3 linked regions of the Homo sapiens genome follow. The protein of the gene in region 3 interacts with the protein of the main gene of each other region in a pairwise test. Each region holds a gene or a part of one and is shown on either strand. Other genes may lie near its edges. The genes, in order: COX6A2, SLC38A3 and COL6A2.

Region 1 (2,639 bases), on a different chromosome or scaffold from region 3:
TTCCAAATCCAGCATTAGGTCCCAAGGCCTCACACACAGGACTGTGGAGCCTCCGTCTGAAATCCAGAGAGCTGGGATTCACAGACACCAGCAGCTCAGGTGTCAGGCAAGAAGTGGGACTTCAGGATCTGCAGCCCTGGGCTCCCATGGGGGCTCTGCCGAGCTGCCGGAACTTGGACAAGTCATTTAATTCCCAAGAATCTCAGGTCTTCCTCGGGAGAAGGTGAACTAAATTTATACCCTGCTCCCAGCGTTACTGTGAGGATTCGGTGTACGCGGAAGCCCATTACAGCCTAGAGCCCTAATTATTAATAGGTGTGTGTGAGAGGGAGGCCTCATTATTACCAGGTGAGAGACAGGGAGCTGGGATCGCCTACCTGTGAGTGGAGGAGGCTCCCTCGAGCACCTCCGTATCAGCGGCGTGGGAAAAGCACGTGGAGCGCCCACCGCGCTAGGCGCATGCGCGGAGCAGGAGCGCTTACCAAGCTGGGCGCATGCGCGGAGCGGGCGCCTCTGGGCGCGCTCCCCGTGGCCCCGCCCTCCCCACAGAGCCGCAGACTCGAAGCTTCACACCTTTATTGTGTCCGGGGGCGTCCGGGGCCTCAGGGGTGTTCGTAGCCCGTGGGCAGAGGGTTCACGTGGCTATTGTGGAACAGAGTGTGGTTGCCGTCCCCCCAGGGGTAGGGCTGTGGAGAGAGCGGGGGAGGGAGCGCGCGTGAGCGCCGTGAGTCCGGAGTCCGCGCCCCGCGCGACCCCCCCCCCGCAGCACCCCCCCCCGCCCCCGCAGCACCCCCCCCCGCCCCCGCAGCACCCCCGTGCCGCCCGCGCGCCCGTCCCGCGTACCTTGGTGCGGATGCGGAGGTGTTGGTAGGGACGGAACTCGGGGCGCGGGCGGTGGCCCGAGTGGAGATAGGAGTTGAAGGTGCAGAGGGCCACGCTGGGCAGCGCCAGCACGAAGGTCAGCAGACGCCAGGTACGAGCTGCGGACGGAGCGGGGTGAGCGCGGCGGTCCTGGGGCGGCGGGCCTGTGAACAGGTGGGCAGGGTAGGGGAGCCCCCGGATCCGCCCGTTCCCCACTCACCTCCTGCTCCTCCGTGGCCTCCTTTGGCAGCGCTGGCCAAGCCCCGGGTCAGGGGCCTCAGAGGCAAAGCCATGATGGTGCGGGGAGCCGGGAACCAGCGCTGTCCTCGCTCCCTTTCCTGGGGCCTGGGGTCACCTCCCCTCTCTGGGCCAATCACCTGTTGAGTCTGGAGCACTGGCGGCTATTCTTAGGGGTTTCTATATTTAAAATGGGGCCTGACTGGCTTGAGGTCATCTCCAGACAGCTGTTGTCCTGTGCCTCTTATTTTGGCAAGGAGGCATTTAAGTACAATATGCCATTCTTTTTATATAGTTGCAGGGAAACTATTTTGTTCCCTATTCTATGCCTGGTGGCTGGCACACAGTTGGGCTTTAATAAATATTTGTAGAATGAATTAAGTGTCTTTTTGAGTCTCAGTGTTTTCAGCTGTAAAATGTATAATAATTCGTACCTTAAAAGATTTTTTAAATACTGGAGACGGGGATCTCACTATATTGTCCAGGCTGGTGTGGAACTCTTGAGCTCACGTGATCCTCCCGCCTCAGCCTCCCACAGTGCTGGGATTACAGGCATGAGCCACTACACGGCCCTTACATCATTTTTATGAAGTTTATGTAAGGTAGGAATGTGTCAACCTGGATTTTGGCAGGTAACAGTAGTTCAGTATATGTATTAGTCACAGTTCTTTGCAAAGAACAGAACTCACTCTTACTAGTTTTAGAAGATAAGTAATTGAGAATCTTAGGTAGCTTACTATGTCTGATATAGCCAGAGATGCCTACAGTCTGCACAGTCATAAACAAGTCATTCCGTTGGCCAGCTGCAGTGACACCCCCACAGCTCACACTGCTGGACCCTGGATGCCAAAAGCTTCATTAAGGCTGCCCTGGAAAACCAGAATTTTCCACCCTCATCCCCTCTTGAAAACAGATTCTTCATGAAACCTGTATCCTGGGTCGCTCTTTTCTGAAAGAATTATGTGATTGCACCAACTGGCAACCCCTAGGTCCCCCAGCTGCAGGAGGGGATGGGAAACTGAGCTCTGGATTCTGCCTTAGGGAGGCAGGAATTGTAGGGAAAATCTCCAGGTCTAGGATGAGTATTCAAAAGGTTCCAGGCAGCCACAAGCCTGACAGGTGTCTACTGCAAAGTGCATTATTTCAATCTGAAAAATATGACTACTTGGAGAAAGCAAGCCTAGACAGGGCTGGTGTGAACCCTCTATCAAAGCAGGTCACAAGAAAGCCACAAGACCAGGCAGGGATGACATCTGCCTGTTCTGTCCTCAGCAACGGGCAGGGACCTTGGCATGAAGGAGGTGTTCTAAAAATATGTATGTAATGAATGCTTGAACCTTGTTACTTTGGTTAACCCTACAACAATGCCTTTTCAGAATTACAATCCAATAGGAAGCTTCTAGCTTTGATCAAGGGCTGATGTACTAATATGAACTTAATATACAAAAGAAGAATGAATTATATAGACATATAATCTGAATTTAATATATAAAAAAAACGAGGAAGATATATTTTCAAGAAGGGGCTCTATACCTGTTTCT
Region 2 (3,727 bases), on a different chromosome or scaffold from region 3:
GAGGTCAGGAGTTTGAGACTAGCCTGACCAACATGGAAAAACCCCATCTCTACTAAAAATACAAAATTAGCCGGGCTGGTGGCGCATGCCTGTAATCCCAGCTACGCAGGAGGCTGAGGCAGGAGAATTGCTTGAACCCAGGAGGTGGAGGTTGCAGTGAGCTGAGATTGCGCCATTGCACTCCAGCCTGGGCAACAAGAGCCAAACTCCATCTCAAAAAAAAAGAAAAAAAAAAAAAAAAAAAAAAAAAAAGGATGGGGGCATCAAGGAAGACTTCCTGGAGGAGGTGCGAAGCCAGTACTAAAATTCCAGTAGGCACCCTGGGGTGTCAAACAGGAAAGAGTGTACCAGGCAGAGAGCACAGCATAGGCAGAGGCCCTGAGGTGCAGTACGAGGCAAGCTGTAAGCGTTGAAGGAAGGTTCTGTGGCAACAGACAAACCTGATACAGCTGTAAAGGCCAGGTCTAGGAGTCTGGACTTTGGTCCAGGGCAGGGAGGAGGGCTGGGGGCTGGGGGCCAGGGTGAGGATTAGCACTGGCCTGGCATGGAGCCCCCAGCCATTCCCTGAGGCTGCCAGCCCATTTTTGACAGCTCCTACCCCTCAGGCCTGTGGCCTCCCAGGCTCCTTTGTATCCGGGAATCGGAATCGGGGTAAACTCAGGGAAGGGCTCCTGCATAAGAAAGGCTGCCAGCAGAGCCTGATCCCCTGTGGTGAAAGCCCAGAGTAGACCCTCTAGGGCTGGGCTTGGCCCTGCCTCACTGTGTGGCCAGGGGCAGGGTACTCCCCAGCTCAGGACCTCAGTGTATCCCTGTCCTCTAGGGGTCCCGTGAGGCTTGGTCAAAGCTGGGGATGAGTGAGGAGCCTCCCCAAAGCCTTCATCCCCAGAACAGTCCATGGGTGCCCAGAGAGTGGCCAGGAGCTAGGGTGGGGAGATCACGGTGGCCTTGGGCAGGTCATCAGAATGGCATCTGTCATGGATGTAGTGTGAACCCGGGCAGTAAATCAATGGCCCAGGCCATTGCCCTGGGACCTGTTTGTTTTCCTGGGAGATAAGGGCCAGGAGGGGCCAGGAGCCACAGGGATGGCGCAGCAGGTAACGCCCGCCCACGCGAACATCACCTGGTGAGAATTCATCAGGCACACCTCGGCAGGTGTTGAGTTTGGCTAATTAAAGATTTTGAGCCCCAGGAACCCAGGCCACTTCAGGGCGGCTGATGCAAGCAGCTACAGGAAGCACAGCTCTCTGCCCAGGGATCAAGGTCCTTGGAGTCCCCAGGACTCTGAGCCTTGCTTTCCTTCCCCATGCTCAGGAACATAAGTGGGTCTGGGTCGGCAGTAGTGAGCTGGTGACAGGGAGGCCTTCGCACTCTTTTTACCTTGGTGACGACTTGCACCAGTGGAGGCACAGACCCTCTGGAGCTTATTGCTGAGGCCCAGGCTACCTGACCTCCGCCAAGATCTCAGGAGAGAGACAGCTGGCCTGGCTTGAGGGTCCATCGTGATTATCCCTGGGGGCTCAGGGGTGAGGGCTGCCCCCAGTTCCAGCTCAGCTCATTTTTACCACTCCCCTCCTTGGCTGAGACAGGGTGCCCCCCTCCTAAGTCTGGTACCCATCTGGACAGCTACCCCTCTGTCCACCTGCTCCTCCAGGCTTCAGAGGGAAGATGCCCCCTACTAGGAGAAGGTGTTAGTAAGGGGGGAAACCAGATCCAATGGAGACATTTGGACTGCATGTTCTCAAGGCACAGCCATAGGAATTGGTGGTAGCTGATTGCTGGGGTCAGGGGTCTAGGGACAAAGCAGGTGGGAGGAGGGTGTTAGAACAGGGAAAAGACACCTCTTACCCTCCTCTAGACCCATGTTTTCATGTCCTCCTCATCAACAACACAACAGTGCAAGTGGCCAGTGTGTGGCCAACACTGGGCTAATACTGAAGAAGTGACATGCAGGCGGGGGCATATCCAGGGGAAGGCAGATGGCCCAGAGAACTGAACTACCGGCCATGTTAATCCTCAGCCCCCAGCTCCCTGGCCTTGGGATCTAGGGTCTGTGGCTCTGTGTTCTGGGCATCCGGAGGTGTCTAGGAGGATCTGAGAGACCCAGCTGGGGCCGGAAGGTAGACTTTCCTGTGGCCGGGTACATTTTCTTTTTTTTTCTTGTTTTTTTTTTTTGAGACGGAGTCTTGCTCTGTCACCCAGGCTGGAGTGCAGTGGCGTGATCTCGGCTCACTGCAACCTCCGCCTCCTGGGTTCACACCTTTCTCCTGCCTCAGCTTCCCGAGTAGCTGGGACTACAGGCGCCCGCCACCACGCCCAGCTAATTTTTTGTATTTTTTAGTAGAGACGGGGTTTCACCATGTTAGCCAGGATGGTCTCGATCTCCTGACCTCGTGATCCACCCACCTTGGCCTCCCAAAGTGCTGGGATTACAGGCTTGAGCCACTGCGCCCGGCCATGGCCAGGTACGTTTTCTAACAGATGCTTGTAGCTGGGCCTAACCTTAGGCACCTCAGCCTCCCTTCCCACCCAGCCCTGGACCCTCCTTGCTCAGGCTGCCACCCATAGAGGTTGCAGTCAGAAGCTCTTGGTTCACGAGTGGGCTAGAGCAACAGCAGCCCCCACCTCACCCATTGCCAGCCTGCTGAGAAGGACGTGCAGCCGGAGGCCCAGCTGAGGCAAAGGACAGGACATCACGTGACTGTGGCCCCCCAGGGGCAGGGGAGACCCTGCGCCAGCCAGCCCATTCTCCTCCCTGCTGACCCGGAATCCCCTGGAGGCGGCCAAATATTTAGACAGCCGGACTTCTGGCCCCAAAGCAAGCTGAAGCACAGGCCTCGGGCAGTTCAGGACTCATCAGAGAGTCCGATGGGGGGCTAAAGTCAAGGTCGGCCTGGAGGAGGGGAGACATCCAACATCAGGAAGAAAAGGCAGAGGGAGGGAAGAGAGATAGACAGGGACAGAGCAGGGAGAGAAAACACAGTCATTAGCTCCATGCGTCCATGCATACTGATCCACACACAGAGACAGACAGACAGAGATGCAGCGGCCCAGGGTGACAGGGAAATGCAGATGCACACAGAGGGACACAGACAGAAAAACACACAGACAAAAACCACATGCAGATAGCGGACAGACATTTAGACAGGAGACAGACAGCGACAGAAACAACCAGGGAGGTGAGAAACAGAGTGAGCACCCAGTCAGAGACAGCCAAATGGAGGAAGAGACAGACAACAAGACAGCAAGAGACAGCTGTAAGGCCGGGCATGGTGGCTCACGCCTGTAATCCCAGCACTTTGGGAGGCCGAGGCGGGCAGATCACCTGAGCCCAGGAGTTTGAGACCAGCCTGGCCAACATGGTGAAACCCCATCTCTACTAAAAATACAAAAATTATCCAGGCATGGTGGCAGGTGCCTGTAATCCCAGCTACTCGGGAGGCTGAGGCAGGAGAACTGCTTGAACCTGGGAGGCAGAGGCTACAGTGAACCAAGATCACGCCGCTGCACTCCAGCCTGGGTAACACAGCGAGACCCTATCTCAAAAAAAAAAAAAAAAAAAGAGAGAAAGCTGAAGAAAAAGAGAGCCCCAGAAAGAGCGAGAAGGGGAGAGGGAGCCAGGGGGCCCAGCTGAGGGGGCAGTAGGCCCAATGGGCACTGCCAAGATGGCCAGGCAGAACCCTGGAGGACCCCACAAAAAGGCTGCTGCACCTCCAGGTCCCCACAGAGC
Region 3 (3,500 bases):
CGGACTTGGGGTCCTTAGCGATGGCACCCAGCCTGTTGACCACGTTGATGACGAAGTTCTTCTCCAGTGTGAAGTTGGTGTACCCAATGCTCTCGGAGCTGTCGATGACGAAGACCACGTCCAGGGCGCCACAGCGCTTCTCACAGTCTGGGGGGGTGGCAGGGTCATCGGGGGGTACCGGGGAGACCTCAGACCCTAGGGTCACGTGCACATGCAGGACCCAGCGATGACCCAGCCCTGCTGCACTCCCGCCCTCCACCCGGTGCATGGGCCCCGACCCTGCCGTGGGCAGTGCCTCACCGCAGCACCCGCAGGTCTCCCTCACGTAGGTCATGACGTCACACTCCTGCAATGCACACGGCAGGCAGGGTAGTCCCCCCGGGGCCCCAGAAGAGTTTCCACAGCAAGGTCCTGGCCTGGGGGTCCCGGGACATTCCAGCCCACGTGTGGAGGCAGCCATGCGGGGAGGCTGGCGGGTCCTGTCCCTACCAACCTCGCTGCCACCCTCCTCCCCCCACCAACCTTGCCCTGTGACCTTCCCCAACCAAGCTTGCTCTCTGACCTTGCCCTCTGACCTCCTCCACTGATCTTGCTCTCTGACCGTGCCAGCTGACCTTCCCCCACCCCTGCTGCTCTTGGTGTCTAGTTTTGGCAGGAGAAGGACACTGGTTCTGCCCCATGTGACACCTACCGTGAGACCGGGGTCTCCAGGGGGGCCGGGCTCACCCTGGGGAAGGAAGGATGAGGCTGAGACTCTGGGGCCAAGGCTGGGTGGCTGAGTCTCTCCCAGGCCACTGCCCACTGATACGTGGGTCCACCGTGGGCAGAACCACGAGGCTTGGGTGTGTGTTGGCCTGGCAGGTTGGGGGGAGGGCATGGGGACTGGCCACCAACCTACCTCGGGTCCTGGGACTCCTCTTGGCCCCCGAGGGCCTGGCTCACCAGGGGGACCAGGATCCGCCTGAGAAGGAACAAGAACAGGTGGGCTTCAGTGGCCCCAGGGACAGTCCCTGCACACAGCAGGGCCCCCTGTGCTGTCCCCAACCACGGGTCCTCCCTTGGCGGGGGGGGGGGCTAACAGGTGCAAGGAGTAAGACAAGGCTGTGCCTCCTCCTTCCCTATGCTGGCACCAGAGCTAGAAAGGCCATGAGTGGCCACCGTCAGAGCCTGGCCCACCAGAGGGGTAGGGGCCTGGCAGAGCTGGGTGTCCCAGAAATAGCAGCCAAAACAGCTCATTCCAATCCATGGGTATTCCACCCCATTATCATGTACCCACCAACTCCACGCCCACCCATCCACCCATTCGCCCATTCGCCCAATCACCCATCCATCTATCCACCCAGCCACCCACTAACCCATCCATCCATCCACCCAGTCACCCATCCATCATCCATCCACCCAGCCACCCACTAACCCATCCATTCATCCACCCATCCTCTGTCCACCCACCCATCTATCTATCCACTCACTTACCCATCTATCCATCCACCCACCCACTCACCTGTCCGTCCATCCTCTACCCACCCACCCATTCATCCATCGGTCCATCCGTTCACTCATCCATCCACCCACTGTCCGTCTGTCCATCCACTCATTCACCTAACCATCCATCCACCCACCTACCCATCCCCCCACTCACTCACATACCCATCTATCCACTCATCCACCCATCACCTACCCAACCATCCATCCTCTATCCACCCACCCATCCATCTATCCACTGACTCACCCATCCATCCATCTGCCAACCCACTAACTCATTCATCCATCCATCCTTTATGCACCCATCCATTCATCCACCCACCCACTAACCCATCCATACATACACCCACTCACCCATCCATCCCCCCACTCATCCATTCAGCCATCCATCATCTAACCACACACTCGCCCACCCACCCATCCATCTACCCACCTACCCACCTACTCACCCATACATCTACTCATTCACCCATGTATCCACTTATCCATCCACCCACCCACTCATCCAGCAATCCATCCATTCATCCATCTTCTATCCACCCACTCTTCTATTCACTCATCCATCCATCACCCATCCTCCCATCCATCCATTTGCCCACCCCCATCCACTTGCCCATCCATCCATCGTTATCCATCCCTTGTTTTGTGCTCAGTTCCAGACCAACCTGCAGCCCTGGTTAAACCCTTGGCCAGGCTAGGGATTTGGAGGCACAGAGCACCTTCTGGGGGATAACTGTGGGGAGGACATTGGGGAGGGAACCCTTGGGGAATGCTGTGTGTAGGAACTCTGAGGGGGATGCTATGTGGAGGCATCTTTTGGGGGAGGGGACTCTGGAGGGGATGCTATGTTGGGGTCGCTGGGGAGGGGACCCTGGTGGGGGATGCTGTAGTGGGGATGCTGGGAGGGGACTCTGGGGGGATGTTGTGGAGGGGTCACTAGGGAGGGGACCCTTGTGGGGGATGCTGTGGGGGGGATGTTGGGGGGTCACTGGGGAGGGGACGCTGGAAGGGAGGCTGGGTTGAGGGAGGGGGCCCCTGAGCCAGCCGTTCCCTTTAGGAAGGTGGGGGTGGTGCTCATGGCTGGGGCCAAGCTGCCTGGCGTTCTCCTGTACTCATAGATGCACACGCTCAGCCTCAGGGCCCCTCCCTGCCTCTGCCCAGCTGCTGTGGGCTTCGGGACGGTGACACTCACAGGCTCTCCTTTCTCTCCTTTCCTCCCAGGTTCTCCTTTCAAGCCAAAGTCGCCTCGGCCTCCCTGTGACAGGGAACACATGTTAGCCTGGGACAGAGGAGCTGTCTCTACCAGGGACACCAGTGAGATTTTTATGTGGAAAAATCGATCTGGCATTTTGGGGTCCTTTAAACGGGAGCATCTATGTGGTTTTTTTGCAAAGCCTGAACTTTGGTTGAAAAGGGACCAGCCAGTGGCTGACAGCTCCCCCAGAGCTCAGCATAGGTGACATGGCTGGGCCTTGGGGAGCCAGGACCATCTCAAGACAGGGGTGGTCCTGTCAGTGACGGTGGGCATTGTGTTCCCAGCAATTGGGCGTGCAGACCCCCACCCTGGGTGGGCACAGGTGGCCAGGACCCACACATACCTCGGGGCCGCGTGGGCCGGGCTCGCCTTTTTCTCCCTGTGAAGCAAACAGAAGCCAGGGTGACTCAGCCTCAGATCCCAGTGCTCCTTCCTCCCTCTGGGCAGCTTTCTGCAGCCCCGTTTCCCTCCCTCGCTCATTCACACTCTGGGTGAGGCCACTGTGCTGCGTTCTGAGCTGTGCTCTTTTCCTGATGCTGGGCTGGACCTATCCTTCACTGAGTCACCCGAAGCCTTCTCACCACTCTGTCCCGCAGGAGGGACCTCACACTTTCTTCTGCACAGAGGAGGCCTTGAGGGAACTACTAGGAATCTTCAGGGCCCTTGGGACAATGTCCACCCACTCCTGGGAGCTGCCATCCCAGGCTGTGACTCACGGGTGCTCCTCGGGGTCCTGGGTAGCTGAATCCAGGCCTGCCGGGGT

Evidence for each region.
Region 1: the proteins of COL6A2 (region 3) and COX6A2 interact in a two-hybrid assay, tested with the Homo sapiens proteins (one large-scale study listed by BioGRID and IntAct).
Region 2: the proteins of COL6A2 (region 3) and SLC38A3 interact in a two-hybrid assay, tested with the Homo sapiens proteins (one large-scale study listed by BioGRID and IntAct).

What each region holds. Positions count from the first base shown.
Region 1 is NC_000016.10:31,427,172-31,429,810, forward strand, and holds COX6A2 (cytochrome c oxidase subunit 6A2, mitochondrial precursor), read right to left. Parts: upstream 1,190-2,639; 5' UTR 1,155-1,189; coding exon 1,082-1,154; intron 981-1,081; coding exon 844-980; intron 687-843; coding exon 603-686; 3' UTR 560-602; downstream 1-559. UniProt on the Homo sapiens protein: Component of the cytochrome c oxidase, the last enzyme in the mitochondrial electron transport chain which drives oxidative phosphorylation.
Region 2 is NC_000003.12:50,208,094-50,211,820, reverse strand, and holds part of SLC38A3 (sodium-coupled neutral amino acid transporter 3), read right to left. Parts: intron 1-3,727. UniProt on the Homo sapiens protein: Symporter that cotransports specific neutral amino acids and sodium ions, coupled to an H(+) antiporter activity.
Region 3 is NC_000021.9:46,122,112-46,125,611, reverse strand, and holds part of COL6A2 (collagen alpha-2(VI) chain isoform 2C2 precursor), read right to left. Parts: coding exon 3,454-3,500; intron 3,117-3,453; coding exon 3,081-3,116; intron 2,738-3,080; coding exon 2,675-2,737; intron 962-2,674; coding exon 899-961; intron 728-898; coding exon 692-727; intron 347-691; coding exon 301-346; intron 148-300; coding exon 1-147. UniProt on the Homo sapiens protein: Collagen VI acts as a cell-binding protein.